Homo sapiens: one gene and its partners. The protein of the gene in region 7 interacts with the protein of the main gene of each other region in a pairwise test. Each region holds a gene or a part of one and is shown on either strand. Other genes may lie near its edges.

Region 1 (4,547 bases), on a different chromosome or scaffold from region 7:
TGGTTCAGTAGGTCTGGGGTGGAGATTGAATGCCTGATTTAAAAACAATCACACAAACAAACTCCTCACAGGTATTTGCCACACACTAGTTAAGAATCCTTGCTAGTGGAAATAGTAATATTCTTGCTCCAATCTGGTACATACCACACATATTTGCTGGGGAGATGAGAAGGCACATATTTGTACTTGATGATTACTTGAAGAGGGGAGAAGCAGAATGTTTTCACAGCTCAGAAATCTCAAATCCAGTGCACTTTGGGAGAAAAGGTGGCTCTAATCACTCATTTTATTCTCACCCTGCCTTCTAGGCTATTGTCACTCCAGTTCCTAGCTTAAAACTGTACGGGACATTTCCAGTATAGAGCCTGCTGAGAATGAACATGAAATCAAGGACATTACCTGATGATGGATTATGTAGATGGCGAAGGTGTGGTGGCACGGAGACCTCTTGGTGACCAGGCCGGACACTGAGCAATCTGTCCAGCAGCTTATCAGAAGAAGACACAGTCCAAACTTTGTAGGAAAATACCTGATTAGAATCACTCTTCCAGGGGTTATCTAGTAACATCTGGCAGCCAGTTCTGTTATTTAATAAATCCTGCTCACTTCGACTTTTCTGAGATCGCTGGGCCATATGATGAGGAGCAGAGCTCAGGCCTGCATGGGAAGTGGCCCTATGGGAGGCTGTTAGGAAGTTATTGCCCAGGGTGATGGGTGGGAGACTCTGCGTTCTGATTGGTGGAAGCCCCTTACGGGCCAGCGGTTTCTTTTCTGGTAAGAGATATTTTGAATTGTCTGAGGTTTTCTTCTTAAATTCAACCATAGCCACCTGATCACCAGGCTGTTCTTGGCAGTTGGTACCCACGATGCTATCAAAGGTGGTGATGATGTCATTGACTTCTGAGGTGTCCTCCTCTCTGTATCGGTCCCTGCTGGGATCCTTCTGATGGGCTCTCTGCTCTTCTTTCTTGTTTTTGCAGAATATTTGGTTGAGCACGTTGAACCGTCTCTCCTTCTTCTGGGGCCGACTGCTCTGGGAGGGAGGGGGTCGAGTAGGCTCTGTTCTATGCGAATATAAAAGAGCAGGGATGATATGTGAGTATGGGAAGTAGAGACATCACTCACCGAAATACCGACCCCCTATTCCACATGCTTCATCAGGTTTTCTGAGATCCTTCCTAGATACCTCCAAAGCCTTCTCAAGTTAAAGGCAGTGTGAAGAACTCACAGTACCCCTGGCAATCCCGCCCAGAAGAGGCTCTTTACCATGGGCAGTCTTTGCCCAAGGAGGACGTTTCTTAGATTTTTCTTGCTCCTTCAGGGGATATCCTTTCAAAATTTACACCTAGATCATCTGTTTTCAACAAGAGGTTAACTAAACTGAAAATTAGCTGAAAGTGTTGTTCTCACATCTCAAGGACAGTCAGTAGGCACGCAAGTTGAAGTCAGAGATGAAGCCTAAGGGTTTGAGTTCAGGCTTCAATGAGCAGAAGGATGGAGGAGGTTGCTGAGGTGGGGGGAATGTGGTTTTAGGCTTTCTCTGACAGAGATCCTAGAAAACCTGGACCGAGTGCTGACCGACTGACATTATCCCCCTCAGAGACCCCTCCCCATTTTAAACTAAAACTTTCCTATCGAAAAGTACTTTTAAAAAAAGTATGCTGAAGAACAGGTACGGTGGCTAATGCCTATAATTCCAGAACTTTGGGAGGCTGAGGCAGGAGGATCACTTGATGTCAAGAGTTTGAGACCAGCCTGGGCAACATGGCAGGATCTCATCTCTAGCAAAAAAAAAAAAAAAAAACAACCAAGGAAAGAAGCTTTAGTCTGGGCTCCAGCGAGGGAAGAGGAGGAGTGCATGACCAAGGTCGGGCGTGGCTGCAGAAGAAAGTGAGCAATGCCCAATGCGCAGGCAAATTATAAAGGAAAAAGGCCAGCAGTTGTCGAGAGGTTCCCTGAGGCAAGATTCTGTTTGTGTTCCTTAGAAAATTCTGTGTGATTCTCTTTTGAGGCTCCAATTGACTTAATGCTTTCTGCGGTATGAATTAACGATGAAACCTGACCCGTGTGTGTGCCCCTGAGTCAGATTGCAACACTACTTTCTGGAGTGAGATATCGCAATCTGCAATTTGAAAAACATCACCACTTATTTTGGATGCATATAATGAATGTTTTCTCTACAGGTCACACAGTGCATCCTTTGAATTTTTATTCCATGATGTAGTCTTATCTTTATTCTTTCACCTTCCAATGGGCTTTTTGAAATACTGAATTCTAGACTCCTAATACCACCAGAGAGAGAGCCCCAGGGCACTTCCGACGCTCAAGTTTCCCTATAAAGAATATGTCTGTGTGAATTGATGCTATTGCAGCATCTTGTGTAAGCCATCTCCTCCTCCTGTTACAGCTTGTGCTTTAGGCCTCTGGGTCTCAAAATGGGGTCCACTGAACCCTTGGAGAGGGATCCCCGACTTTTTAAGGGGTTTATGGCATTAAACTCTATTCATAATAACATCACAACGTTATTTGTCTTTTTCACTGTGCTGCCTTGCATCGATGGTGCAATAGAGGTGGTGGGTAAAATGGTGGCTGCCTCAGTACAAATCAGGACAATAGTGGCATCAATGTACTTGCAGAAAAAAAAAGTCCTTTAACTTAATAATGTCCTTGTTTAGGGAGTACAAGTTATTAATTTGATTAAATATTAACTTGAGTACACTTGTTTGACAAAATAAGAAGCACTCGTAAGCAATTCTACTATATACGGAGGTGTGATGATTGTCTTGGGGTAAAGCAGCTGTGCAATTGTTTGAGTCGCGGGCTGAACCGGACACTTTTTTCACGGAACACCATTTTTATGCCTTGCAGACAAACTGTGGTTATGTAGAGCTAAGTATTTGCAGAAATTTCTGCAAAATAAATAAAGTGAAATACACAGAAACAGAGAGTAAAACAGTGATTACCAGAAGTGAGGGTGAGGTGGGGGAATGGGAGGTGTAGGTCGAAGGGTACAAAGTTGCAGTTGAGTTCAAGTATTTCTCGTGCTTCAGCCTCCCAAGTGTCTGGGATTACAGGTGCATGCCACCACGCCCAGCTAATTTTGGTATTTTCAGTAGAGATGGGGTTTTGCCATCTTGGCTAGGCTAGTCTTGAACTCCTGGGCTCAAGTGATCCACCCACCTTGGCTTCCCAAAGTGTGGAGGTTACAGGCGTGAGTCACTGCGCTCGACCCATCTGACTAGGTATATTTATATCAAAATATGTATACTATATATATATATATATATATATATATATACAATAAAAATATATTAAAATGAATAAAGTGGGCCAGGCGTGGTGGCTCACGCCTGTAATCCCAGCACTTTGGGAGGCCGAGGCGGGTGGATTACCTGAGGTTGGGAATTAGAGACTAGCCTGACCAACATGGAGAAAACCTGTCTCTACTAAAAATACAAAATTAGCCAGGGGTAGTAGCACATGCCTGTAATCCCAGCCACTCTGGAGGCCGAGACAGGAGAATCACTTGAACCTGGGAGGCAGAGGTTTCGGTGAGCCGAGATCGTGCCATTGTACTCCAGCCTGGGCAACAAGAGCGAAACTCCATCTCAAAATAAATAAACAAATAAATAAAATAAAACGAATACAGTGAATATTTCATTTCAAGATAAATAACTGACAGTTATTGTAGCCAATGACAAAAGTCTAGCTTTCAAGCAAAAACTAGAATTTTGGAAAACTTATATTCACATTGTAAGCTTGACACCATCTCAGTATATAAAGCTTGTCCAATAGATTGGTGGTGATGTTAACAAATGTGACTTTTTGATATTGTATAATGAAATGTGTCATCTGGAAGATCTTTATAATTAAGTGAACCAATATTTTCCAAATGACCAATGCAAGGTGTTAATAAAATCACGCATGTGTATAAGACCCATTTAAAGTATAAGGTATAGTAATGTATTCTAATGTGACAGAGTACAAAAAATTCATTGATATGGTGAGAATCCACATTGCAATTAACCTTTAAGAAACTGCTGCTTGTTAAGTTTTGGTATCGTATCAAAGAAAAATACACACAATTATCTGAAAAGCCTATTGAGATACACCTGCCTTTTCCAACTACGTATTTATATAAGGCTGGATCGTTTTTATATACATCAATCAAAACATGATACTGTGGCTGGGTATGATGGCTCACACTTCTAATCCCAGCACTTCAGGAGGCTAAGGTGGGAGGACTGCTTGAGGCCAGGAGTTTGAGACCAGCCTGGGTAGCATAGTGAGGCCATCTCTACAAAAAAATAAAAAACCAAAAAACAAGAAAACCCAGCTGGGCATGGTGGCACATGCCTAAAGTCCCAGCTACTCAGGAGGTTGAGGTGAGGGGATCGTTTGAGCCCAAGAGTTCAAGGTTGCAGTAAGCCATGATTATGCCACTGCACACCAGCCTGGATGACAAGTGAGACTCTGGTTCTAAAAATAATAATAATAATAAATAAATAAATAAATAAATAAGCAAACCCCCAAACCAAAAAACAAAA
Region 2 (4,341 bases), on a different chromosome or scaffold from region 7:
CATGGACAGTCCCAGTTATGTGTGTAAACCTTCATTGTGCAAACTGGCACCTGGGGATGTTCAGAGGAGAGTCATTCTATGTGTCTGCCTTTCAGCTGTGGTGTGTCCCTCCTGGTACTAACATGTAATGTGTGCCTCACTGTCCCAAGCACTGAGGATAGAAGATGAATGAGACACCATCTCTGCTCTAAGACTCAGGACAAATGAGTCCTAAGTATCACAGGGCTGGAATGGGTGTCTTTATGGGAAATAGGGGTGGGACAGGTGGTCCCTGTGCTTAGTGGGGATGCAGGGGAGAAAGATGTTGTCATCATAATTTGGAGGATCACTGGGGAAAGTGGTTGAGCTGAGTCTTGAAAGACAGGTGGTGCTTTCTGGGAAGAAATGGCGTGGGGTTCAGTAGAGGGTCATTTCTGGCAGATAGGGCCTTGTATGACAAGAAATTCTAGGGACTTCATATTGTCTGAAAGGCCAAGCTAAGTTCAGTGAGGTTGGAGCTGATACATGATTTTGTCATTCTTCCATGCCTTGCTTCAAATGACCATAGAGGATCCTCTAACCAGGCATTCTACCGTTCTTCCTTTGCTATGTCCAGAAGGAGAAGAGGGAGGGCTCTCATTCTTTATGGCTTAGAGGTAGACCTCAGACCATGGGCTGAAAGTTGTGAAAAGGCAAATTCAAGTTCAATAATTAGGAAAAACATTTTAATGTTGGCTCCTTAAAATAGACTACATGGTGAGGTAATGAATTCCGTGGCAATCAGCGACTTGCCCAAGCATTCAAAGCTAGTTAGGCCAGCATTAGAATGCACACCTACGGGGTCCCGACTGCAAAATACAGTGTTCTTTTTACCACCTAGAAGCTGGGTGTTGCTCCTACAAAACACCACAGAATTCTGAGCCTAGGACTAGACCTGAGCAGCTGGAAATATACAGACTTGCTGAGTGCCTTGCTTATTACTGTCATCATAACAAATAGTTGTCATTGAACAAACAGCAAGCCATGTCAGGTATTTCCTTTTATTAGCTCTTACAAGATTCCTGTTGGAAAGCTGAGAGGTCATGGAAACATTTGTCTACAACCTCCTTGAAGAATGTGGTGAGAAAAATATACATACATATATGTGTGTGTATATGTCTACTTTGTGATGAGTCTGAGGTTGTTTCCTGCTCTGAAGGGGCTCAGAAGTGCTTCTGGAGGGCAGACTGGATATTCTTCAGCAGGCCCCACTTAGCTCGGTTCTTCCCATGTCCATCTGGTGTTACCACCTGCAATCAGAAGCGAAGAGTCATGACACCCAATAGACAACAGCTCCCAGTAGCCTGGGCCCTTCTGCATGTCAGACACTACACACATCATTTCATTAACTCCTCACGACCACCACAGTGGCTGTTGGTGCCACTTTATAGATGAAGAAGCTGAGGCTCAGAAGGACCAGGAAGGTTTCCCAAAGCCCCACAGCTATAGTGTCCTGGGATTGTGATTCCATAGGCCAGATCCTACTTCCCTTTAGGGTAGCTCATGTGACTAAGTGCTGATGACAGTGATGGGGCTGGACCGCAGGTGAGCTTCACCATAGAGGATCCTCTGTATCCTTCCTCAGCCATTAGAACTTGGTTCTGTCACAGCTTTTATCAGTTGTTAAGTTTCAGCTAATGCATTTGACTTTCTTACCAGACCATGAGCACCTTGATTGGGGTGTGGGGGAAATGATAGTCTTTCATCTCTGTGGTCCCAACACTAGTTATGGAAAAGAGAAGATTCTTAGAGAAGTATATGAACAGTGAATAGAACTATAATATAATATAATTTGTAAATCTGCCAGTTGTTTTCCTTTGATGCTAGCAGAAACACTTCATACTATCTTTAATTACAGTGAATGGCCAGTGCTACCTGAAAAAGAAAGACTGTACTGGGCACGAGGGGTAAGAAGAACCCTCCTAGAAATCTCACCAAGTTAGCTTAGATGTTGCCCTCCATGCCTTACCTTGAAGATACTGGGTTTCTTCACTACTGTGGTCTGGCAGCATTCCCATTCCTTCCCCCCAAATAAATATTTATGGAGTGAGGTCGAGACCCAGGGATGAAAGACAGTCCACTGGATCAATGGGCTCTGCTGAGGTGAATGAGGACTTGAGATAGAATGGGGGTGGGGTTTGTATGGTGAAGAGGAATGTTTATACAGGGCACAAAGTCTCTATGTACAAAGCTTTTAACCTTCTATATTTGTATATAAAGGGAAAGGGCAAAAACAAAGAAGCCAGACCCTTATTAGCATTATGCTCTCTACTTTTACAAAATTTTTGGTTTTAGAGAAGACAGGGCTGCATGCAAGGCAAAGGTCATATTATATACATGATATTAGATTATCCATTGCTGAGTAGAAATGGAAATAATGCATAGAGATAACCCTGATAAAAGTAGTATAAATAATGTCCAAGATACACACAGAGTTATCAGAGGGCATGAGGAAGATGGAACGGTGTTACGAGGTGTTAGGAATTAACTCATAAATAGGAGATTGAGTTTTTGCTTTAAAATATAGTCAGAATCTTCAAAGATAAAGACTGTATGTGATATGTGAATGGAGCAGTGAGGATTGAGGTGTGTCTATGAAAAAAGGGAATCAGGTAGAAAGAAGGACAGAAGAAACAGAAAAACAAAACTTGGAATATTAAAGAAATTGAAATGATAGTTGACATCTCTTCCCTGCCCCAAATGCCCCAGGCTCATATTGCTTTCCAGATGAATTCTACCAAACTCTTAAGAGTTATTCTAGAAAATAGAAGAGCAAAAAGTTTCCCAGCTCTTTTTATGAAGGTTGTGAAATATTGATTCCAGAACCAGATAAAAACAATATAAGCAAAAAATTGAGCCCAATTCCCTTATAATTATAGATGCAATAAACCAAAATAAAATACGAGCTAACTGAAGTAAACTGTATTAAAAAGTAATACATCATGAACACACAGGATTTATTCCATGAATGGAAGTGGAATTTAGTATCAGAAAAATCAGTCAATGTAATTCACTTCATTAATAATGGCCTGAAGGAGAAAAATCATGTAATTACCTCAAATAATGCAAAAAATTTAATAAGTACCTATTTCTCAGAAACCTAGAAGTAATTTTCCTTAACTTAATAAGGATTATATACCATAAAAACTAAATAAAAAATAACTCAATGGAGAAACGTTAATATCAGGAATAAGACAAGGATATCTACTAACACTGCCACAATTTTATGTATGACTCAAGGTTCTGGCCAAAGCCATAAGGAAAGAAAAAAGAAATAGAATTGTGAGAATTGTAAGTAAACAGATAAAACCATCATTCTTTATAGGAGATAGGATCATATGCCTGGGAAAACAAGCAGAAATAGCAGATTGGGTCTCAGAATAGTAAGGAGAGTTTCTGACATTGCTGGAATCAAGATTACCCTACAAACAGAAATAGTCTTTATTCTAAACCAGTAATCTATTAGAAAATATAATAAAATAACTTTCATAATATCAACAGTCTGTAAACTATTTGGTTTATTTATTTATGGTATGCAACATGATGTTTTGACATATGTATACAAAGTAAAATAATTACTACAGGCAGGCAAATTAGCATACCCACCATCTCACAGTTATCTTTTTTTGTGTGTGTGAAAAGAACACCTAAAATCTTAACAAATTTTCTATCAATACAATATTATTAACTGTAGCCCTCATGCTGTACGTTAGATCTCTAAATGATCTAGTTTAACCAGGAATATGTGCACCTATGTAGGAAAACTTAAACACCCCAGTAAAGAACATAGACTATGGTTTGAGTAAATGTTCAAACATATTACAAAAATACCATTTGTTTCCAAATTAATTTAGAAACACAATGCCTTCTGAATAAATTCTATCTGAATGTTTTCTAAGAATTCAAGTTACTCCAAAATGTATATGAAGAAATAAATTTCTATGATTAGCTAAATAATTTCTGAAAAAGAAAGAAGGATAATGGGCATACTTACCGTAGCAGTTCATAAAGACATGGCAGAAAGCTGAGGTTCAAAAATAATAAAACAAGTATGGTATTGATATAAGAGCAGAAATATAGACCCATGGCATGTAATAGAGTCCTCAGAGACATACCCCTAAATATATGGAAACTGAATATAAAAGTGGCATTTCTGGCCAGGCGCGGTGGCTCATGCCTGTAATCCCAGCACTTTGGGAGGCTGAGGCCGGCAGATCACGAGGTCAGGAGATAGAGACCATACTGGCTAACACGGTGAAATCCCGTGTCTACTAAAAATACAAAAATTTAGCCGGGCGTGGTGGCGGGCGCCTGTAGTCCCAG
Region 3 (4,547 bases), about 20 Mb from region 7:
ATTTGGAGATCCGTCAAACTTAAAGATTACAAACTTGTTGGGGATCAAGAGGACCATGGTTCAGCCAAGAGGATCTGTGGAAGGAGAAAGCGCCCTGGAGGCCCTGAGGCCCGCTGTAAAGACTGTGGCAAGGTCTTTAAGTACAATCACTTTTTAGCAATCCACCAGAGGAGCCACACAGGTAATGATGTTTTCAAAGCTGATTGCAGTGTGTTGCAGAATTGGGAGTAGTGATGATAATAATAGCTTCCATTTACTGTGCAACTTCTGTGTGATGGGCATTGTAATAAAGCCTTTATACATGTTATTGCAGTTAATTTTCTCCACAATCCTGCAAGGTGGGTAATATCCTCATTATACATTGTATGATTAAAATCATATTTACTCATATGTAAGAGAGGGTTGCTAAAGTGCATAGTTTACAGATGAAGCAACCAAGTTCTAGGGAGCTTAAATAACTTGCCAGAGTCACCCGTTAGTGACAGAGCTGGGATTGAACCCAGGTAGCCTGGTTCAAGAACCCCTCTCATTTGTAGTTGTTGAATGAATCCTTTAATGTCCACTTATCAAGATCTAGCCCAATGTACCCTGCTTTCTGATTCTTGAACATTCTTCATCTTGACCATAACCATGCTTTTGCCCAAGTCTGTGTAGATCACTTTGTAACTCAGCTATCTAGCTTTAAATACCTTCTCATTTTTGGTCCCTCTAGCCCAGCGCTGACCAATGGGACCCTTCTGTGATGATGGAAATGTTCCTACATCTCTGATGTCCAATATGGTGGCCAGTAACCACATGTGGTTTTTGAGCACTTGAACTGTGGCTAGCGTGACTGAGAAACTGAATTTTAAATTTTATTTTAATTCATTTAAATTTGAATAACCACATGTGGCTAGTGGCTACCGTATTGGACACTGCAGTCCTAGTGAGAAATCCCTTCCTCCTTTGAGCCCTTTCAGGTGCTTAAAACCCACTCTGCTTTGGATCAGATTGTTGTTACCACTTGTATATCCCTCAACTTAATTGTAATCTTAAGTATAGGGACTGGGGCTTAAGTCTTCTCCTGTGATCCAGCAGTATCTGGTGCTGTGGTTCTCAGCCTGCAAATTGGAATCACTTAGGGAGCTTCTAAAACTACCAGTGCCTAGACCTCCACCCCAGAGCTTCTGATTTAGTTGTCTGGAGCCTTGGTGCTTTTAAAAGCTCCCTAAAGACTTTAGCTACAGATAGGTTGAAGAGCTTGAATTCAGGTACTTCGAACAAAGTGGATACTTGAGAAATATTTGTTGAACTGTAATAGGTTATATTTTAGCTTTTTTTTTTTTTTTTTTTTTTTTTTTGAGATGGATTCTCGCTCTGTCACCCAGGCTAGAGTGCAGTGGCGCGATCTCGGCTCACCGCAACCTCCGCCTCCCGAGTTCAAGTGATTCTCCTGCCTCAGCCTCCTGAGTAGCTGGGATTACAGGCACACGCCACCACGCCCAGCTAATTTTTTGTATTTTTAGTAGAGACGGGGTTTCACCATGTTGGTCAGGCTGGTCTCAAACTCCTGACCTCGTGATCTGCCTGCCTCAGCCTCCCAAAGTGCTGGGATTACAGGCGTGCGCCACTGCGCCCAGCTGGCTATTTTTATCAAAAATTTTATGTGCATAGTTTAGAGTTAAATCATTATACAAGACTTAAGAAAAAGCATGTAGGATCGTTCTTCCCTTATGTCCTCAGTACAGACAGTCCCCGACTCACAATGGTTCAATTCATCTTTACAATAGTGTGAAAGCAGTACATGTTCAACAGAAACTGTACTTTGAATTCTGAGTTTTGATCTTTTCCCGGTCTAGTAATATTCAGTATGATCCTCTCATGCCATGCCGGGCCACACAGTCACGTGGGTAAATGACCAGTACTCTGCATTTGGTGCATTCATACAGTACTCTGTATAAGTGCATTTTTCCTTATGATATTTTCAGTATGATGGGTTTGTTAGATGTAGTCCCATCATAAGTCAGGAAGCATCTGTATTCTGAATTTTGCAGCCCATCACTTTAGTATGGGTCTGTTTTCTTCCATCTGGGTAGATAACAGGTAGATTCATAAGGTTTGGAAACTGTCTTTCAGTTCTGGAAAATCTTGAGTTATTTCATAGATGATTTCTCCTCTCTGTTTTCTCTGTTCTCTCTAACTTTATTTTCTCTTATATTTTCCATCATTTTTGGCCCCACCCTCTGGGGGATTTCCACTTTGTTTTTCAGCCCTTTGAGGTTTTCTGTTTCAACTCTTATTTTTTTCCCCCTTTAGGAGCTCTTTTTTTTCTAAATGTTTTAATTTGAATGATCTTTTTATTTCACAATGTATTATCTTACCTCTATGAGCATGTTAATGATAACAACATTTTCCTCACTGGAGGCAAGTTGCTTTTTTTTTTCTTCTTGCTTGTTTGTCTGTCACTATTACAAAAGGCTCTCCTTGAGTGCCTGGTGTTTTTTTTTTAAATCATATGTAAGGGTGGGTTGCTAAAAGCTACTGGCAATGCTGCATGTGTGGAGAGAGCCTGTATTTTATTTATTTCTTAGGCTGTTGCCCAGGCTGGAGTGCAATGGCGTGATCTCCGATCACCACAACCTCCGCCTCCTGGATTCAAGTGATTCTCCTGCCTCAGCCACCCAAGTAGCTGGGATTACAGGCACGCACCACCATGCCTGGCTAATTTTTTTTGTATGAGAGAGTCTGTAAAACTGTGACCTTGTTCCCAGATCACACTGAGAGTCAGGCTGCTATTTCTCGTGGCCCAATAATGAGATGCAGATGAATTGGAGAGGAAGAGAGTTTTTATTTCTGTAACCAGTTATAGGGAGAAGGCCTGGAAATTATCGCCAGACCAACTCAAAATTACAGAATTTTTCAGAGCTTATATACCGCCTAAGCTGTATGTCTGTCTGTAAGTGTGCATTCCTCTAAAGACGTAGGTGATTAACTTCTTTTAATCTATATCCAAGGTCTGCGTCCCAAAGACCTTCTTCTGGAGCCTCAGTAAGTTTACTTAATCTAAATGGGTCTAGGTGCTGGGGTGATTACCCTTATCTTCTGCTAAATCACGGAGATTTGGGGAGTTCCTTCAGATCCCCAGTAAAACTTGTTTAATCCTAAGTGGGCCCTGTTAAGAATTCCTTCGTTATTTTGTCATGCTTTAAGGCCCAGGAGAAGCCTAGGGGAAACTCTTGGTGGGCTTTTGTTACATTCCAGCCTTTGTTTAAGGGCACTGGCTTTTAATGTTTAACTTAACCACTCAGTCAGTACTGAAACAGTTGTATGGAGGCCTGTCATAACCTCACTGGAGGTGGTGTGGCTGTGCCCCATGTCCTTACTGGTGCCTGGCTTCCACATCTTTGCTCTCTCACCTTGGACCTCTCATGTTCCACTGGAAGACGCTTCTGCTCTCCCACTTGGAGGCACTAGGCCTGGCTGCTGGCCTGTGTCTAGGACAGGATGGGGAAGAAGGAGTGGGGGAGTCTCATCATCCCAGATGGAAATGTTGACTTACTCTCCCTGTGGTGATCCCAACTCAACTGTGCCTAGAAACTCCTAATCCAAAGACCCCTTTTTCTTAACCCTCCTCAGTGAACACTCTCCATTCTCTTTTGGGGGAGGGACAGTCTCCTGGCTGTGTAGAGTGGAAGATTTGATCAGGGGTCTAAGCACCTTTGAAACAGACTTTCATTTACCCTCCCTCACCCCTGTTTCCAGAGATAGCAGGTGCCACCAATTCCTGAGCCTTAGGAGATTGTGTCTTAAAAATTAGGTTGTATTGGGCTGGGTGTGGTGGCTCATGCCTGTACTCCCAGCAATTTGGGAGGCCGAGGCAGGAAGATTGCTTGAGCCCAGGAGTTGGAGACCTGCCTGGGCAACATAGTGAGATCCCATCTCTAAAAAAAATTAAAATTACAATTAAAAAATTAGCTGGGTGTAGTGGTGGCACATGCCTGTGATCCCAGCTACTCAGGAGGCTGAAGTGGGAAGATCATTTGTTCCCAGGAGGTTGAGGCTATAGTCAGCTATGGTAGCGCCACTGCACTCCAGCCTGGGTGATAGAGTGAGACCCTGTTACAAAGGAAAAACAAAAAATTAGGTTATGTTAGTGCTACTCACTGCTGGCTTCAGATTCATCTGTTCAGCTTCCAAAATTTTATTGCTGATGTCTCTTGTGTTCATTGTTGGCCTTTTGGATGTGTGCCTTTTAAGAAAAATCCTTTATTGTTTTTTTAATTTGGGAGAGACAGAAAAATGTGTGGATTCTTACTTATACCATGCTTCTGGGGCTCTTCTTCCAGGGGAGCGACCTTTCAAATGTAATGAGTGTGGAAAAGGCTTTGCCCAGAAGCACTCGCTACAGGTCCACACCAGGATGCACACAGGCGAGCGGCCGTACACCTGCACCGTGTGCAGCAAGGCTCTGACCACCAAGCACTCACTGCTGGAGCACATGAGCCTGCACTCAGGTAGTGGGGCTTGCCCAGAGGGCCAGCTTCACCAGATTCCCATTCCCCAGGGTG
Region 4 (4,547 bases), on a different chromosome or scaffold from region 7:
TATACATATTTCAAAACATCATGCTGTACATGATAAATACATATAATTTTTGTCAATTAAAAAAACAAAAAAAACCAGCTGGGCATGGTAGCTCATGCCTGTAATTCTAGCACTTTGGAAGGCCAAGGCAGGCAAATCACCTGAGGTCAGGACTTCGAGACCAGCCTGGCCAACATGGTGAAACCTTGTCTCTACTAAAAATACAAAAATTAGCTGGGTGTGGTGGCATGCACCTGTAATCCCAGCTACTTGGAAGGCTGAGGCAGGAGAATCGCTTGAACACAGGAGGCAAAGGTTGCAGTGAGCTGAGATCACGCCACTGCATTCCAGCCTGGGTGACAGAGGGAGACTCCATCTCAAAATAAAATAAAATAAAATAAAAAATAAATAAACCAAGTAGGTAAAAGCAAAAAAACAAACAAAAAAGTTACATTGTATTGTTTTCTGGCCCCCATTATTTCTGTTGACAAGTCAGATGTCAGTCTAATTGTTCCTTTGAAGATTATGTGTCTTTTTTCCTCTGGTTACTTTCAACAGTTTTATTTTTACTATGAAGAATGAAAGTGTGGTACTCCTTGTATTTATTCTGCTTGTCGTTTCTTGCACTTTTCAAATCCATGGCTTGATATTTGTCATCGGTTTTAGAAAATTCTCAATCACTGTCTCTTAAAATATTACTGCTTCTAACTTTCTCTCCTCCAGTCATATGTATGTTAGACTTCTTCATCATTTCCTCATGTCTCTGTAATAGTTTCATATTGTTGCTGTCACAAGTTATCCAAAGCTATTGGCTTAAAGCAATACAAATTAACTTTCTTACAGTTCTAGACTCTGCCTAGCAAACACTGTGAGGGGAAAACAAGTTTTAAAAAAGTTTCTGGGTACTGTCCTTCTCTAGGGATCTTGACCCAAGAACTAGCTACCTGGAGATCTCTAAAATCCAAGTTTTGTCTGCTCCGCCCCATAAAACTAACAGCTTCTCTGCTTTTAGAAGAAACCCTCTGCTAAGTTTCACAGCATCTTGTCATGCTCTAAGAATTAGCAAATTCCTAGGAAAAAAGAGAAGCATGGAACATCAGCCCACTTCTCTGAAGCTCCTTTGGTTCTATGGTTGTGGTTTCTTAAGTCCTGGATGCCTCAGCAGGTCTCTGATGCCTTCACTTTTCTTTTTAATTCTCATCTTTCCTGTTCTTAGCAAAAGCATTAGTCTGCAGCAACCTCATCTCTCAGAGTCATAAGTGGAAACCATAGCTTGGGCTCTGAATAAAAACTCTACTGCTTATTAGTTAAGTGATTCGGCAAGTTATTTAACCTAGAGTATTTAAACATTTGAAGTTTCAATTTTCTTTCATGTAAAATGAACGTTAACACTATCTAATGAGGTTACTGTGAGGATGTGAAGATTAAATGAGACATATTTATAAAATGTCTGATAACAAAAACATTCTTATTGTAGGTTTTGTATGTGCCAAATACTTTATATAGATTTAATAATTTAATGTAGACATAGTTATCCTCCATTTCCTTTTCAAGACCACATATTAGTAAGTGATGAAGCTCAGATTTGATTCTAGAACACCAGTTTTCAATAACTACAAATTGTTGCTTCTATAATGTTGCTTGAGTATTGTTCCTGACACAAGTAAGTGGTCAGTAAATGTAAATTATTATTATATAGAAAATATAAATGCTTCAGAAATAGACACCAATCACATTAGTTTTTCTACTTTTTCTTCTGATGTTTCTCCTTTTCATTTTTGCAAAAACATTCTTACAACATCTTTCAATGTATTCTTAAAGACGCTATTGTGAAAAATGAATGTCTTACAGCCCACTGAGTAGATAGGCAATAATTTGCTTAGGCATTATTATATTGTTGAATATTTAGAAGGTTTCAAGTTTTAGACAGTATAGATATCAGTGCTATTAACATTTTGTGCCTTTAACTATTTTTCTTATTTAAAGTATTTTCTCAGAATGAAGTTCTATATGTGGAATTATTGGCTCAAAAGTATGAACATTTTATTATTTGTTGATATAACTGCTACTGTTATTAAGCCAAAAAGTTATGATAATTATGATGCCATCAAGCAACAAACATGAAGGTTTGTATCAAGAGAACAGGAATTAAAGCTATGAAGTATAGGAATGAAGGACATGTGGACATGGGGGAAAAAAAGGAGATATGAATTTTGAGGCTGGAAAAGAAAAAATGGGGTGCTGGAAATCATTTCTTTTGAAGCAGGCAAGCGCTAGTAATCCCAGCTACTTGGGAGGCTGAGGCAGGAGAATTGCATGAGCTCACTAGCGCCACTGCACTCCAGCCTGGGAGACAGAGCAAGACTCCGTCTCAAAAAAACAAAAAAAACAAAAAAACCCACCATATTAAATTATTATTATTTTGTTTAGTAGAGATGGGGTCTTGCTATGTTGCCTGTGTTAGTCTCAAACTCCTGGCCTCAAGCAATCCTCCTGTCTCAGCCTCCCAAAGTGTTGAGATTATAGATACAAACCACTGTGCCCGGCCAACATATTATTTAAAAATTATACATATAAATTGCAAAACAACCACACAGATTAAAGGCCTATGTTCTAGAGGCTCCCCCCTCCTTTTTTTTTTTTTTTGAGACAGAGTCTTGCTCTGTAGCCCAGGTTGGAGTGCAGTGGCTCGATAACAGCTCACAGCCTTGAACTCCTGGGCTTATGCGATCCTCTGGCCTCAGCCTCCTGAGTAGCTATGACCACATGTGTATATACCACCATGTCTGGCTATTTTTTATTTTTTTGTAGAGACAGCATCTCACTATGTTACCCAAGCCGGTCCCAAACTCCTGAGCTAAGGCGATCCTTCTGCCTTGGCTTCCCAAAGTGTTGGGATTACAGAAGCCACCACACCCAGCCTAGAGTCCACTTATTTGGTGTGTAATCTCGAGCCTTGAATTGCCTTATCTATAAATTGGGATTAAATTTTATAATATCCGACTAAAGCCAGAATTGGAACATCGTATCTCTTGTTTTATATTCCTGATATTAAATTTGTTTTGTGAGTATACCATACTTCAATAAAAATGAAGGAATCTCTCCTTTTTTGCTGATATGCTTTGAATGTCTTACACGCTATGCTTTGAATATCTTATCTTGTGATGAATATCCTGTTAAGAATCTTATGTCAGACTTTAAGTTACTATTTTAAAAGGTTACTTTACTTTGTGGGATTCTCTGAAGGCCAAGCCATTTGCCTGCTCTTTCTACAATCACATAAATCTTACTGGGTATACCCAAAGGCCGTTGCTTTTCTACAGCTGCCTTCCTCCTTCTTTGTTACCATCACAGATTTTGGGGTAGTAGGTACCTGATCATCAGGGAGAACACAGAAGGCCTTGAAAATGTGGGTTTAACCATACCAAGATCTTTCGCTCTGTTTATGTACTATAGCCTCCCCAGTAAAAACAAAACAAAACAACAAACAACATCTCTGCTAAATGCTTCATTATGAACACAGGTAAGTCAGTGCTTGATTGTCCCAAGTTCCAGTTCAGATTTTCCACTTTCCATTATCCTCCAGTAAATTTTAGTAGTGATACTGAGGGATCATGCAGTATGAGAATAAACACTGGCCTTAGAGGATCTGCATTCAAATCCTGTCTCTACCACTTACTGGTTAAGTGATTTTGGGCAAGTAATCTAATCTTTCTAAATCTTATTTTTCTCATATGGAAAAATGCCAAATTATTAGAATTAAGATAACATGTAGTGCCTAGCACAATACTACATAAATGTTAGTCAAGTGGGAATTGGAATTATGGCTCAGTGTGGTCTGAATCTGAATATTATTCAGAAAATAAGGACAGCAGCACTGAATAAAATTTTTTTTTGAGCTGAATAAAATTAGAGAATTTTGATTTCTAGGATCCTCAAAAATCCATATCCTTTAAAGAAGCCATATGGGGTAACATGTATAAGGGTCCTGAATTCCTTCATGTTCCAACAGATCCAGGTTCCAAGGTATGGAAACACTTATCAGATTATAAGCAAAGAGAACAATAATTTTATGTGTGTTCAACTAGCCAAATATTTTTGCTGGTAAAATCGTGGTGAAAACAACATCCTTATACATTGCTGTTATCATTAAAAATCAGTACAATCTTTTAGGGAAATGTAGGTATCATATCTAGAACTACCCATGCTTGTAGAACCATTAATCACACTCATAAGATTTTATCTTCAGAAAAAAAGTCAAATAAGGAAAATAGCTATAGTTTTATTTAATAGTGCCTGGCACATAAAAGGCACTCAAATATTTCTTCAAATGAATACCTTTATTTGTACTGACTTCTCCAAATCACTGCCCTTGGTTCCTTCTCATTAAGATTTATCTATTTTTATTACCTGAGGAGAGCTTTAGAATCAAATTCTAACATCTTTGTCTAGTCTCTATTCTCCCATCTTCCCCAGTAACTTTGTTTTGATTGCTACTAGACTCCTTACCTTAGAATACTCCCACTCTTTAAACTCAGCTGACCGTAACACAGAAACCAAAAAGACCA
Region 5 (4,547 bases), on a different chromosome or scaffold from region 7:
CTAACTCAGCATGCCCTAGGCAGATGGGGCAGCCATCCCTAGACCAATGAGGGCCTCTCATCTCCTAATCCTCCCTCCCACAGGCCTGACAGCCACATGCTCCTTCAACAACTATTTATTGAGCTCTTTGCCAAACATGTACTTGGTAATGGGGAGAAAAAGGTGAATAAAACTCGTGGAGGGTCAGTGGTCATTGCTCTGGGCTGGAGAAGGGGACCATCTCCCAAAGTCCCCTTTAAAGCAGCAGTCCTCTCTGTCTCTAGCTGATAGGATCTACTTTGCCAATCCTCTCAGGTTCTCCGCCATGAGAACCTGAGTTTTCTCATCTGTCTCCAAGGGGAGGGGGCAGTGATAAGAAGCCAAGGAAAATAAAGGAAGATAGGCTGGGCGCGGTGGCTCACGCCTGTAATCCCAGCACTTTAGGAGGCTGAGACGGGCAGATCACCTCAGTTCAGGAGTTCAAGACCAGCCTGGCCAACATGGCAAAACCCTGTCTCTACCAAAAACACAAAAATTAGCCCAGGCGTGGTGGTGCATGCCTGTAGTCCCAGCTATTTGAGAGGCTGAGGCAGGAGAATTGCTTAAACCTGGGAGGTGGAGGTTACAGTGAGCCGAGATTGCGCCACTGCACTCCAGCCTGGGAGCCTGGGTGACAGAGTGAGACTCCATCTCAAAAAAAATAAATAAATAAAAAGAAAACAAAGGAAGATGCTTTGTGATCTGAGCTGTAGCATCCTATAAACACGTACCGTATCGGAAAGAGCATCACCCAGTTTTGTGGACAGCAGAGGGCAAAAGCCAGATCCAAGTCCTGGTTCCTTGAGCTGTCTACAGGGTTGACCTCACGGGTTGGCTCAGCCTCTGACACATTCTGGCAGGACCGGGGTGTCTCCCAGGGACAAGGTGCAGAAATGGAAAGCACATGGACCTTGGTGCCAGACACACCTGGGGCCTTTTGGGGGTGGTCTCGCTCTCTAGTTGTGTGGTTCTGATAGGTCAGCCACTCTTTCTGTGCCTCACTTTCCCCCTGGGTGACACAGGTAGCTGTGTTAAGTCAGCTCATGTCACACCTCTCTCAGGACCTTCCCACGGCTCACTGGAGTAAAGCCAGAGTTGTCACCATGGCCCACAAAGTGCTGCAGAAAGTGATCCCCAGTGGCCGGGCGCGGTGGCTCACGCCTGTAATCCCAGCACTTTGGGAGGCCAAGGCGGGTGGATCATGAGGTCAGGAGATCGAGACCAGCCTGGCCAACATGGTGAAACCCCGTCTCTACTAAAAATACGAAAATTAGCCGGGCGTGGTGGCACGTGCCTGTAGTCCCAGCTACTTGGGAGGCTGAGACAAAAGAATCGCTTGAACCCGGGAGGCGGAGGTTGCAGTGAGCCAAGATTGTGCCACTGCACTCCAGCCTGGGCGAGAGTGAGACTCCGTCTGAAAAAAAAAAAAAAAAGAAAGTGCTCCCCAGCATCCCTTCTCCAACCTCAGCCCTACTTGGCTTCCTTTTGTTTCCCCTGCCTCAGCCACACCCGCCCTTCCTCAACACAGGATGCACGCTCCTCTCCAGGGCCTTTGCACTGGCTGGTCCCTCTGCTGGCGTTTTTGTTTTTGTTTTTGTTTTTTATACAGGGTCTCACTCACTCCGTTACAGGCTGGAGTGCAGTGACACGATCACAGCTCATTGCAGCCTCAAACTCCCAGGCTCAAGTGGTCCTCCTACCTCAGCCTCCCTAGTAGCTGGAACTATAGGTGCATGCCACCACACCTGGCCAATTTTTGTACTTTTTGTACAGACAGAGTTTCATCATGTTGCCCAGGCTGGTCTTGAACTCCTTGGCTCAAGCGATCCGCCTGCCTCCGCCTCCCAAAGTGTTGGGATTATAGGCATGAGCCACGACGCATGGCCTCTGTTGGCATCCTTGTTCCCTAGATATCCACAAAGTTTGCTCCATCACCTCCTGAGGTCTCTTCAAATCTCATGTTCACTCAGTTTAGAATTTGCAACCCCTGATACACACACGGACACACACACACACACACACACACACACACACACACACTCCCTGTGTCCCTTCCCCACCTCAGGTTTCCCCATGTGTAATTGTCATCACTCACATATATGGTGGTTATTTGTTCAGTGTCTGTCCCTCCCAACCCCCCGATTAGAATGCCAGCTCCATGAGGGCAGAACTTATACCTGATTCACCGCGGCCTCCCCCATGCCTAGAACCGCGCCTGGCACCTCGCAGATACTCAAGGAATCCTTGCTGAGTTCTCAGTGTGACTCAGGCCAAGGTGGGGACAGTCCAGGGCTTCTCAGGAAACTCCCCAGCTCCTCCCAGCCCACACAGTCAGGGGGTCTGGCAGCTCACAGGGAAGGAAGGAGTGGGACAGAAGGAAGTTGGCGCTTGCAGAGATCCCCTGACAGGGGCAGCCACTGTGGCCCTTAAGCAGGAGAGTCTTAGGGGTCACCCAGGTTTCGCTGGGGGTAGCTGGGTGGACCCAGAGTGCCAGGTCAGGACCCAGGCAGCTTTAGACCCCTGTGCGGATCCACGGTGAAGACCAGTGGCTTCATGGGGTGACCCCTGAGCTGCGACCCCCCACTGCTGAACATGCCGGCTTAGCCTGGGCTCTGGCCTCAGTTTCCCTGCCTAGCACTCCAAATCCTAGGGGGCTCAGGCCCTGGCTGCCCACCTAGCTCTCCTTGGGGGCCTCTGTGCACTCCCATCCTACCTGGAAAAGTCATATGAGATCTGCTGGCTACCCTGACCTTTCAGATACTATCTGGAGACGTTTACATGTCAACCTCACCGATCCTACCTTTCAATGCAGGCCTTTTTTTTTTCCCTTTTTTTTTTTTTTTTTTTTTTGAGATGGAGTCTCGCTCTGTCGCCCAGGCTGGAGTGCAGTGACAGGATCTCAGCTCACTGCAACCTCCGCCTCCTGGGTTCAAGCGATTAGCTCTGCCTCAGCCTCCTGAATAGCTGGGACTACAGGCGCCTACCACCACGCCCAGCTAATTTTTGTATTTTTAGTAGAGACAGAGTTTCACCATATTGGTCAGGCTGGTCTCGAACTCCTAACCTCAGGTGATCCACCTGCCTCGGCCTCCTGAAGTGCCGGGATTACAGGTGTGAGCCACCACGCCCAACCCAATGCAGGCCTCTTAAGTGGTCACCCTCACCACCCTACACACACCTGGGGAGGTCCCAGCACACCTCCCTGCTGGTCTCAGCTCATTCCCACACAGCAGCTGGACAATCTTTGCACCACGCGAATCTGACCATGCCACCAGCCAGATTAAAGCCTTCCATGGTTCGGCTGGGCAAGGTGGCTCATGCCTATAATCCCAGCACTTTAGGAGGCTGAGGCGGGCGGATCACAAGGTAAGGAGATTGAGACCATCCTGGCTAACATGGTGAAACCCCGTCTCTACTAAAAAATACAAAAAATTAGCCGGGTGTGGTGGCAGGCACCTGTAGTCCCAGCTATCAGGAGGCTGAGGCAGGAGAATGGCGTGAACCCGGGAGGTGAAGCATGCAGTGAGCCGAGATCGCGACACTGCACTCCAGCCTGGGCGACAGAGTGATACTCCATCTCAAAAACAAACACAAAAACAAACAAGCAAACAAAAAAAAAACCTTCCATGGTTCCCTACTATCCTAAGGATGGAGTCCAGACCCACCCTCCCAGCACCCCAGGCCCTGTGTGTCCAGCCCCACGCCCATTTCCCACCACTGCCACCTCCACTCTGTGCTCCAGCCACACAGAATTTCTTTCACTTCCTCCCACCCGCGCTTTCTTGCCTCTGAGCCACCTCCCACCCCATGATATTTCTCTCCCCTCACTCCCCTCTACTTTGTTTGGCAGACTCCTACTCATCCTTCGGCCCTGGGTGCAGACATCTCCTCCTCCAGGAAGCCCTCCCTGATCCCTAGGACTTGTTAGGGACCCCCACCCCTGTGTGTAATGGGTTGTATTTCCTTGCTGTCTCTCCACCAGACAGGGAGAGGCTGAGTCAGCTCTGGGTGCTTGAGGCCACCCATCTCAAGACCTGGCAGGGAGCAGGCACTGGGGAAGGGTGGATGGTCAGAGTCTCTGACGCCATCACCCAGCTTGTCACCAAGCCGGGTTCCAAGCCGAAACGTAGTTCAGTACCTCCTGGCCCTGTCTCTAATTCTTCCTCCTCTCCAGCTGCTTCCTTGGGCCTGTTGGCAGAGACAGTACAGATGCTAGGCGAATGGGAAGAGAGCAGAGGGGATCCCATCCACGTGACTTTGGGCCCAAAGGTGGGGTGTGGGAAACAGGGAAAGGAGCACTGGATTGGGAGTCAAGCTTGGGTTTAAGTCGCATCTCTGTTTTCTCAGGCTGTGTGACCTGGGGTGAGCCACTCCATCTCTCTGGGTCTCCACTTTCCCATCTAAAGGATCGGAACAATACCTGCCTCGCAGGGTTTTGGTGGAATCAAGTGGTATACACTGTAGAGGTCAGTGAGCAGCTGGGAGGTTAGAATTGCTGTCTGTCCAGGAGGGGTCAGGCCTGTAGCCAG
Region 6 (4,547 bases), about 85 Mb from region 7:
TAATCATAATAAACAGTGTAACAACAATTTACTGTCCTTAAGCTTAAATATCAAAATGATGTATAAAGTAAAATTTGTATAGTAGTAGTAACTTACGATATTATTTAGAAATTGTTCAGCTGGGCATGGTGGCTCACACCTGTAATCCCAGCACTTTGGGAGGTTGAGGCAGGTGGATTGCTTGAGCCCAGGAGTTTGAGACCAGCCTGGGCAACATGGCAAAACCCCATCTATACAAAAAATACATCATAGCGAAACCTCACCTCTACACAAAAAATACAAAAATTAACTGGGTGTGGTGGCATGTGCCTGTAGTCCCAGCTACTTGGGAGGCTGAGGTGGGAGGATTGCTTGAGCCCTGGAGGTTGAGGCTGCATTGAGCCATGATCACATTACTGCTCTGTAGCCTGGGCAACAGAGTGAGACCCTGTCTACCAAAAAGAAAAAACAACAACAACAACAAAAAGAAATTATTCTATTCTACACCACACATGAATCCAAGTATTATACATTGATCCTTCATTTTAATAGAACACGAAGGGGAAGGGGGAAGACCTTAGATATCAACTCATTCATTTGTACAGATGAACAAACTGAAGACTTTTTCCTCATTCGTTCATTCCTTCAGCATTTATTGAACACTTCCTAAGTACTATAGGTTATGGTTTTTCTTTTCTTTTTTCTTTTTTTTTTTTTTTGAGACAGAGTTTCACTCTTGTTTCTCAGGCTGGAGTGCAATGGTGCAATCTCGTCCGGCTAATTTTTTGTATTTTTAGTAGAGATGGAGTTTCACCATGTTGTCCAGGCTTTTCTTGAACTCCTGACCTCAGGTGATCCAGCTGCCTTGGCCTCCCAAAGTGTGGGGATTACAGGCGTGAGCCACCGCGCCCGGCCCATAAGTACCATATATTATATAAGATGATATAGTCACAGTGATGAGAGCTTCCCCACCCCTAAGAAACTTGTAGGTGACTAGATAAGCGAAACAATAATTTATTTTATAGAGACAGGGTCTCTGTTTACTAAGCTGGAGTGCAGTAGTGCTATCATATCTCGTTGTAACTTCAAACTCCCGTGCTGAAGTGATTTTCCTGCCTCAGCCTCCTGAGTAGCTAGGCCTATAGGCTCATGCCACCATGCCTGGCAGATTTTTAAGTGTTTTTTTTTTTTTTTGTAGAGATGAGATTTCACTATGATGTCCAGGGTGGTCTCAAACTCCTCAGTGCCTCTCCTGTCTTGGCTTCCCAAAGAGCTCAGATTATAGCTGTGAGTCGTGGCACTTGGCCAATAATTTCTTTTTGACAGTTGCTGCGATATGAGTAATATTAGTAAACGCTAAAGGAATAGGGAAGAGGAATATTGAACCAGGAGTTTCACCTATGGGAAGGCTTTCCATCGTAGAAGGTGTTTCCAGAATGAGAAGTAAAAGCCAGATGAGGAATGTGGTTAAAGATTGCAGTGTATATCCAAGCATGGAGGAAGAAGGGTGCTTGATCTATTTAGAGAACTCTTAAGTGTTTTAGAATGGTAGGAGGTGGGAAGGGAGGGACCACTGAAGTGTTTAGCCCTGTACTAGCTTTATTTTAGTGATGTTTTCTCTCTGTCTGGAATAAATCATTTCTTCCCTTATGCATTGGCTGAGTTATATAAGTAGAACTTAACAGCTGAGCTGTTGAAATGGAGATTATTTATTCAGGTACTGATAACCTTTTGTTTCAAATCATGACTTTGAATCCTATATTCCAGAGGCACTGAAATGTTATTTATTTACCTGTGCATTCAAGAGATAGCTGGCAGCCTAGCAATTTAAGTTACTGTTGTTGTGGTAACTTGAGGGCGATATATAAATCAAACACTGATCCTGTTTTCCAGAAGTTTATACTTTAAATGCATTTGTATATGATTAAAATAAGGTATTAGGTTGGTGAAAGTAGCTGCAGTTTTGACCGTTACTTTTAAGGGTGAAAACAGCAATAACTTTTCTACCATCCTGTACAAAGGGCTGCTGAAGCGTTGTGGGGTCTCAGTGCAAGGAGAGGTCACTTCATCCCTGATGCTTGGGCCACACCTCAGACCAACAGCAGTGCTAAGGCCCAGGCTTCAGATAATTTTGTTTAATTTTTTTTTAAAATTCTCTCCATGATTGGGTAGAGCCAGGGCTGAGAAACATTGACCTGAAGGAATTAGGGGGCTTCATGGAGGAGGTAGTGTTTGTGTTGGGCTTGAGAGGATTTAAGTTTCTCCTGGGCCTTGAAAGGAATTGAAGGATTTAAATGTTTGAATGTGGTGGTAAGATGGCTACTGTAGGTGGAAGATGACTCACCCTTTACCTTGAAAGGATGAAGGAGAAACCCTGATTGAGGTCTAAGAAAAAACAATCATGACCTGCGGAAGGCTTTGGCCAGAGCTGTAGAGTGCATGAGGGTGAGAACGGGGAGATCCCGTGAAAAGGTAATACATCGGCTTTCATATGTTTTAGGCATGAGATGAGCTGAATCCTGATATGATTTGAGTTAGTCTTCCCATGACCTGATGGAAGAGCTGTTATCTCCATTTAAGAAAAGTGAAGCTGCCCAGGTGTGGTGGCTCACATCTGTAATCCCAGCACTGTGGGAGGCTGAGGCAGGAGGATCACTTGAGCTTGGGAGTTTGAGGCCAGCCTGGGTAACATAGCGAGACCCCATCTCAATAAAATAGAATAAAAAAAAGAAAAAAAAATGAAGCTGAGAGTTTATTTAGCCAGGGTCACACAGCTGGAAAGTAGCTAGTGTGGACCTTGGCCTGAGATGTGATCTGTCTAGCTATGATACAACACTGCTTCACAGATAAAGTACCAGCTTCAGGAATTGGAAGGTTATTGATTTTTCTTGGATAACATGGGTACATTTCAGTCATATTTGAATTTTAATTTAGTTGGATTCTCACTTATTTGTAAAGCTAACCGGTTTGTATTGGAAATATTATAAATATTCTGGGAATCTCAAATGTTGATTTTATACTAGCTTTTTAGTTATTTAAGATAAATTTACATTTTATTCTATTAACATCTCTTTGAAAAGACGTAGTGCTTTTTTAGGTTGTCTATTTATGTGTGTATGTGAGACATTTCCTCTTGGGGGATTCTCTGAGACTCACATTTCTGTAGAAGCTTTTTTCAGATATACTTATGAAAATCTGTTCTCTGTTTTGAGAAATCTTGAAAGCTATGATATGTTGCAACTAGACACTCTAGCTTCATTGATTGGAGGCTAAGGGTTCCCGTATTTGTGGGCAGTAACAACAAAATTGACAATTTATTTTGTGTAAAGTATTTCAAATGTCAGTTATTTCTAGAGGTTTTTTTTCTTAAAAAAAAAAAACTCATTAATTCTTTTCATTGTAAAGGAAAGAAACCATCTTTTCATGCTACAAACCCCGACCACCATGAGAATTCTTTTACAGTGTGATTTGTTGTAATCTGTTATAGATCACTTTCATTCTTTCTTTCTTGCTGCATATGAGGGACCAGTATTTTAGGAATAATGTTTTCATATTGTCTGGATATTTTAGGATGATTTGTTAATCAAACTAGCTACAGCTTATTGTAATGATAGCTATTATTTATTTAGAGTTTGTTTTCTCTCTTCTAGGAGCTTTGCCATGAAAAGAACAGTCCAGGCCAGGCGTGGTGGCTCACACCTGTAATCCCAGCACTTTGGGAGGCCCAGGCAGGTGAATCACGAGGTCAGGAGATGGAGACCATCCTGGCTAACACAGTGAAAACCCGTCTCTACTAAAAAAATACAAAAAAAATTAGCCGGATGTGGTGGTGGGTGCCTGTAGTCCCAGCTACTCGAGAGGCTGAGGCAGGAGAATGGCATGAAGTTGGGAGGTGGAGCTTGTAGTGAGCTGAGATCGCACCACTGCACTCCAGCTTGGGAGACACAGCGAGACTGTCTCAAAAAAAAAAAAAAAAAAATCGCCACACTGTCTTCCACAATGGTTGAACTAGTTTACACTCCCACCAACAGTGTAAAAGTATTCCTGTTTCTCCACATCCTCTCCAGCACCTTTTGTTTCCTGACTTTTTAATGATCGCCATTCTAACTGGTGTGAGATGGTATCTCATTGTGGTTTTGATTTGCATTTCTCTGATGGCCAGTGATGATGAGCATTTTTTCATGTGTTTTTTGGCTGCATAAATGTCTTCTTTTGAGAAGTGTCTGTTCATATCCTTCGCCCACTTTTTGATGGGGTTGTTTGATTTTTTTCTTGTAAATTTGTTTAAGTTCTTTGTAGATTCTGGATATTAGCCCTTTGTCAGATGGATAGATTGCAAAAATTTTCTCCCATTCTGTAGGTTGCCTGTTCACTCTGATGGTAGTTTCTTTTGCTGTGCAGAAGCTCTTTAGTTTAATTAGATCCCATTTGTCAATTTTGGCTTTTGTTGCCATTGCTTTTGGTGTTTTAGACACGAAGTCCTTGCCCATGCCTATGTCCTGAATGGTATTGCCTAGGTTTTCTTCTAGGGTTTTTATGGTTTTAGGTCTAACATTTAAGTCTTTAAT
Region 7 (4,547 bases):
CCTAATTGTGCCTGTTTCTACCATAAGACAGCAAGCTCCTTCAGATCAGGAATGGTTTTGTCTGTCTTTGTAACCTTGCATCTAATCTAACCTGGGGTCTCTCACATGGTAAATACTTGTTAAAAGCTTGTATGTTACCAAATATGTCATGAGTCAAACTGTGTCCTAACATACTACTACTGTGTATGCAAGGTGACAACACAGTATGTTTAGAGAGTGTTGTCTCAAGTTACTTTTGGAGCAAGGCATCATGTAAACCAACTAACTGAACCGATCAACTGATCAAAGGCAGGCAGGCAAGGGTCTTTGTTTGCCCCGTGTCACAGTACCAGTATTAAAAAGGAGGTCTGACCGACACTTTTGTATCCTGCTAAGCTGACATGGTAATAGGTTCAGCAAATGTAGTACTGACAATACATCTGTTTTATGTCCTTTTCTTCCAAGAATCTTTAAAAGAAAGTAAAAAAGCAAGGAAATGTGTATTTATAGGTAACTGAAGAAGATGACAAGAATGTCACATGACCTATTCCTTTACTGCCACATGGCTCCACCACAAAGAAAGAAATGGTGAAATCAATGCAGAGTTGACCCCTGCCCTCGTAATGATCCTATGCTCCTCTGTAATGTGCCAGTTGCCAAAAGGGTGGATAAGACACTTCTTGAGTTTTGGCAAAGGTGCTCACTATATGGGAAATGTAGGAAACTAATTTCAATGCTATTTATACTGTTCACACAGTTTTTCTTTTTTTTTTTATTATTATTATGCTTTAAGTTTTAGGGTACATGTGCATAATGTGCAGGTTACATATGTACACATGTGTCATGCTGGTGTGCTGCACCCATTAACTAGTCATTTAGCATTAGGTATATCTCCTAATGCTATCCCTCCCCCCTCCCCCCACCCCACAACAGTCCCCAGAGTGTTCACACAGTTTTTCTCATACTCCCATCCTTATCACCATTTTTTTTTTTTTTGATGCTGTAGGTCTAAGTAAGTCTTACCACTATCTTCCACTGTGGCCTCTTGTAAAGAAAATTTCTAAAGAAGCCAGGGACATCCATGGGGATCTGTAGATCAGGAAGCAGTACTGGGAGTCACCCTCTGCCACATGGCTGCAAGGAGCTGGAGAAAGCATCTCCGCTCAGGGACGAGCTGATGCTTAAATGTATGAATTGGACCAAGGAGGTGAATGAGCAAAGTCTCCACATCACAAATCAATGGCACTCCTTAGATCACTGAGGCTTAGGAAACTTCCTGAGCTTGAAATGATCGTCATATGGTCATGAAAGAGTCATAGATAAAAAATCTGGTTTGTAAACTGTCACTTAAGCCCAAGGGCAGAGGAAATGGTGTCCTCACCATGAAAGTTCAAGAGCTCATAACTAGCTCTTCTCCCATTCTGGTTTCAGTCCTGCTTTGTCATATTTAAGTCTGCAAGATTTTGCTCAGCTTCTGTGTGTGAGGCTTTGTTTGGTGAGCCAGAATGACCATTTACCAAGTATCTCCTAGTGCCCAGCACTGTGCTCTTGTAACACCCTGCAAGGCAGGCATGACTGCCCTTATTCTGTAGATAAGGAAACTATGAAGCAGGGAGGTGAAGGAGTTTATCCATGGTCAGTGCTAGTCAGTGGAGAGCTAGGATTCCAAACCAAGTCCAGTCTGTTTCTTCTTCTGTGCTAGTGGTGTGAGGGAAGGATATGTGTAGGACTCAGGCCTGTGCTCAAGAGATCTAAGATTTAGCTTTGTAGAAGAGGTACAAATGATGAAAAGTTAACTAAGTAACAATGTAAGCAAGTCAACAATGGAAAAGCCATTGCAAGATTATATGAGTAGTTGTCAACTGAGAAATCCAGACAAGTTCAGGATAGGAGACTACTGAGGCTGAGGGGACTAGCAAGGGGGCCCCTTGAACACTTTTATCAGCACGCCTTGAGTGTCTGCTCTAGGTCAAGGGTTGCTTTGATACGATGGCTACTTTCGGAACTGTCACAAGGGTCCCTCCCAGGAACCCATCTCTGGTCTACTTTCGGCAGTGGTAATCGCTCCAGATACACAAAACAGAAAGCAAGTGCCCATCACACCTGCCAGCAAGTGTTACAACAGGCAGAGGCTTTCTAAATACTGGCTTAGCCTCCATCTTGAGAAGGTGGCACTGTCTACCCATTTTTAGGGACCATTTAAATTCATTCATTATACTCAGAAGGCAAATATTCAGGTACCAGTGAAAAGCTGTATGTTCATGAAACTGTGACCACAAGTCTGCATTGTTACTTACTTTTTGTTCTTAACAAATAAGGCTCTAATAATGGGAAAAAATAAGAGGGGGGTGGGAGGTGGAGAATTACACGCAAAACTAACAACTCATAAAATGGTATTTTAAAAAGTAATGATCATAAAGTTAAAATGGAATGAAGTGGCTATAAATAGAAGAATAGTTCCAACTCACTGATGTTAATGGAGTTGCATCCCTCTGCTCTAAGCAGACCCATCTAGACTAAAATCCACTGGTCAGCAGTGGCCTCAAGGTATGAGAAACAAATGCAAAATATGGTGTTAGGGACAACTTGGGATAACAGTCTTGCATTTTGAATGAAAATATTTTGAATGCCTCATTTCGAAGAACATTTTTTCATTGCACTTAAATATGTAACTACCTGGTCTCATACTGTGCAATACTCATTCTGATACAGATGAGATGGGATCACACATTGGGGCCAGAATACAGTGTGCCATGTGGGGGCGAGACCTCGGAGAAGGCAGAAAGTTAACCCTCCAACCTCCCACAGACTGCTTCCTAGGAGGTGATGACCTCAGCTAGCAGTTGGCACATAGTTGGTTCAACCCTGAAAGAAATAAGGCCAGGGTACCGTGTCCGATGGTGCAAGTCAACATGCTGACAATGTGTTGAAATTTGACCCACTGTAACTATGACCCTTAATCCTTCATTACATTGGATTCTAACATATCATCTCTCTGCTGAAAGGAAGATGGGCTGATGAAAACTCAATTTGTAGAGAAAGTTTGGGCACTGTTTGCAAAGCTGGGGAGCTCAGTGTTTTGGGGAGCTCAGTGTTTTGGGGAGCTCAGTGTTTCATGAGACATCCATTTTGCTGCAGGACAGAGTTTATGAGGATACTTACAACAGTTCCATCTCTGGACTATGATAGGGATGAGGCAGTCAGCCTTCAGGCATTTATTGAAAATAGGGTTTGAGGATTTTTGAGACTTGGAACATCATTCTCTATATAAGCTACATGACTAAGGTGTCTCCAGTTGGTTTTGGCAGTATATACACATGGCTGTAGCATTGAGCCCATCTGCAGAAGGCTGATCAGATGAATCCGGAGGACAGGTGACTGCTCCCTGGGAGAGGGCTGGCACGCTTCTCAAGGTCCCTTAATCACAACTTCACAAAAAAGGGAAACTTACATCTTCAGCAACACCATGTACACTTTCCTGATGAAGCTGAATCTCTTACACACTGCAGGAACCAGGAAGATAAAGGTAATGAACCCCTGCCCAAGGGCTTTTTAAAACGCTAGACCACTGACAACCCCTCTGGGTTGTATTTGCACAGCAAGGCACTTGTCAAATGATGAAAGCAATGCTGGTGACAATTAACTCTCCCTTCCCACTCTCTTACTGCACTGCAACCCACTCTGCAGGATGAAAACTGACTTAGTGATCAGGCATCACTCCTCATCTTAATTTTCTATAATTCATATCCACATTATCACATTCTTCTTCCAAAGCAGCATGCTAGACATTTAGAAAGTATTTGTCAAATTAATTCACCTTACTATTTCAACAAAGCTTCTGGTTATTTTAGTATTAATTTTTATTTTATCTATTTTTACAGACAGGGTCTCCCTATGTTGCCCAGGCTTGTCTTGAACTCCTGGGCTCAAGGGATCCTCCTGCCTCAGCCTCCCAAAGTACTAGAATTACAGGTGTAAGCCACCACATCTGGCCTCGTATTAATTTTATTTATTTATTTACTGACAGGGTCTCATACTGGTTGTCCAGGCTGGAGTGCAGTGGCATGATCTTGCCACTTACTGCAGCCTCAACCTTTGGGGCTCAGGTGATTCTCCCAACTCAGCCTCTTGAATAGCTGGGACTATCGGCATATACCACTATGCCCAGCTAATTTTTGTATTTTTAGTAGAGACGGGGTTTCACTATGTTGCCCAGGTGGTCTCAAACTCCTGGACTCAAGCAATCCGTCTATTTTGACCTCCCAAAGTATTGGGATTACAAGTGTTAGCCATTGTGCCTGGGCAATTTTATTATGAATTTTAGATAGAGCTTATTTTGTGTTCTATTCCTAAGGTAATAATATAAAAACTAAATCAACATTGAAATTGATTTATACATATATCATTTCATATGGTGGTTCTTTTAGCTAAAGAAAATCATTATTTGTCTTAGTGAATATGTCTTAAAACATAAACGGAGTGTCTTTTCTCTCCTGTGCAGGTTTGAACTTGGATCTGCAGCCATAATGTAAAAATCCTTCCCCTATTTGTAAGTTTTACTCCTGAGA

Evidence for each region.
Region 1: the proteins of BACH2 (region 7) and ANKRD55 interact in binary tests that used the Homo sapiens proteins (3 or more experiments, as listed by UniProt).
Region 2: the proteins of BACH2 (region 7) and TRIM42 interact in binary tests that used the Homo sapiens proteins (3 or more experiments, as listed by UniProt).
Region 3: the proteins of BACH2 (region 7) and ZBTB24 interact in binary tests that used the Homo sapiens proteins (3 or more experiments, as listed by UniProt).
Region 4: the proteins of BACH2 (region 7) and HMG20A interact in binary tests that used the Homo sapiens proteins (3 or more experiments, as listed by UniProt).
Region 5: the proteins of BACH2 (region 7) and MAFF interact in binary tests that used the Homo sapiens proteins (3 or more experiments, as listed by UniProt).
Region 6: the proteins of BACH2 (region 7) and FARS2 interact in binary tests that used the Homo sapiens proteins (3 or more experiments, as listed by UniProt).

The regions. Positions count from the first base shown.
Region 1 is NC_000005.10:56,110,719-56,115,265, forward strand, and holds part of ANKRD55 (ankyrin repeat domain-containing protein 55), read right to left. Parts: intron 1,065-4,547; coding exon 400-1,064; intron 1-399.
Region 2 is NC_000003.12:140,697,815-140,702,155, reverse strand, and holds the end of TRIM42 (tripartite motif-containing protein 42), read right to left. Parts: intron 1,741-4,341; coding exon of another isoform or gene 1,642-1,740; exon of another isoform or gene 1,414-1,641; intron 1,269-1,413; coding exon 1,182-1,268; 3' UTR 1,006-1,181; downstream 1-1,005.
Region 3 is NC_000006.12:109,476,709-109,481,255, reverse strand, and holds part of ZBTB24 (zinc finger and BTB domain-containing protein 24), read left to right. Parts: coding exon 1-181; coding exon of another isoform or gene 182-231; exon of another isoform or gene 232-307; intron 308-4,325; coding exon 4,326-4,493; intron 4,494-4,547. UniProt on the Homo sapiens protein: May be involved in BMP2-induced transcription.
Region 4 is NC_000015.10:77,427,041-77,431,587, reverse strand, and holds part of HMG20A (high mobility group protein 20A), read right to left. Parts: intron 1-4,547. UniProt on the Homo sapiens protein: Plays a role in neuronal differentiation as chromatin-associated protein. Acts as inhibitor of HMG20B. Overcomes the repressive effects of the neuronal silencer REST and induces the activation of neuronal-specific genes.
Region 5 is NC_000022.11:38,208,135-38,212,681, reverse strand, and holds part of MAFF (transcription factor MafF), read right to left. Parts: intron 1-4,547. UniProt on the Homo sapiens protein: Since they lack a putative transactivation domain, the small Mafs behave as transcriptional repressors when they dimerize among themselves.
Region 6 is NC_000006.12:5,263,813-5,268,359, forward strand, and holds part of FARS2 (phenylalanine--tRNA ligase, mitochondrial), read left to right. Parts: intron 1-1,177; exon of another isoform or gene 1,178-1,266; intron 1,267-3,629; exon of another isoform or gene 3,630-3,711; intron 3,712-4,547. UniProt on the Homo sapiens protein: Is responsible for the charging of tRNA(Phe) with phenylalanine in mitochondrial translation.
Region 7 is NC_000006.12:89,953,557-89,958,103, forward strand, and holds part of BACH2 (transcription regulator protein BACH2), read right to left. Parts: intron 1-4,547. UniProt on the Homo sapiens protein: Transcriptional regulator that acts as a repressor or activator. Binds to Maf recognition elements (MARE). Plays an important role in coordinating transcription activation and repression by MAFK.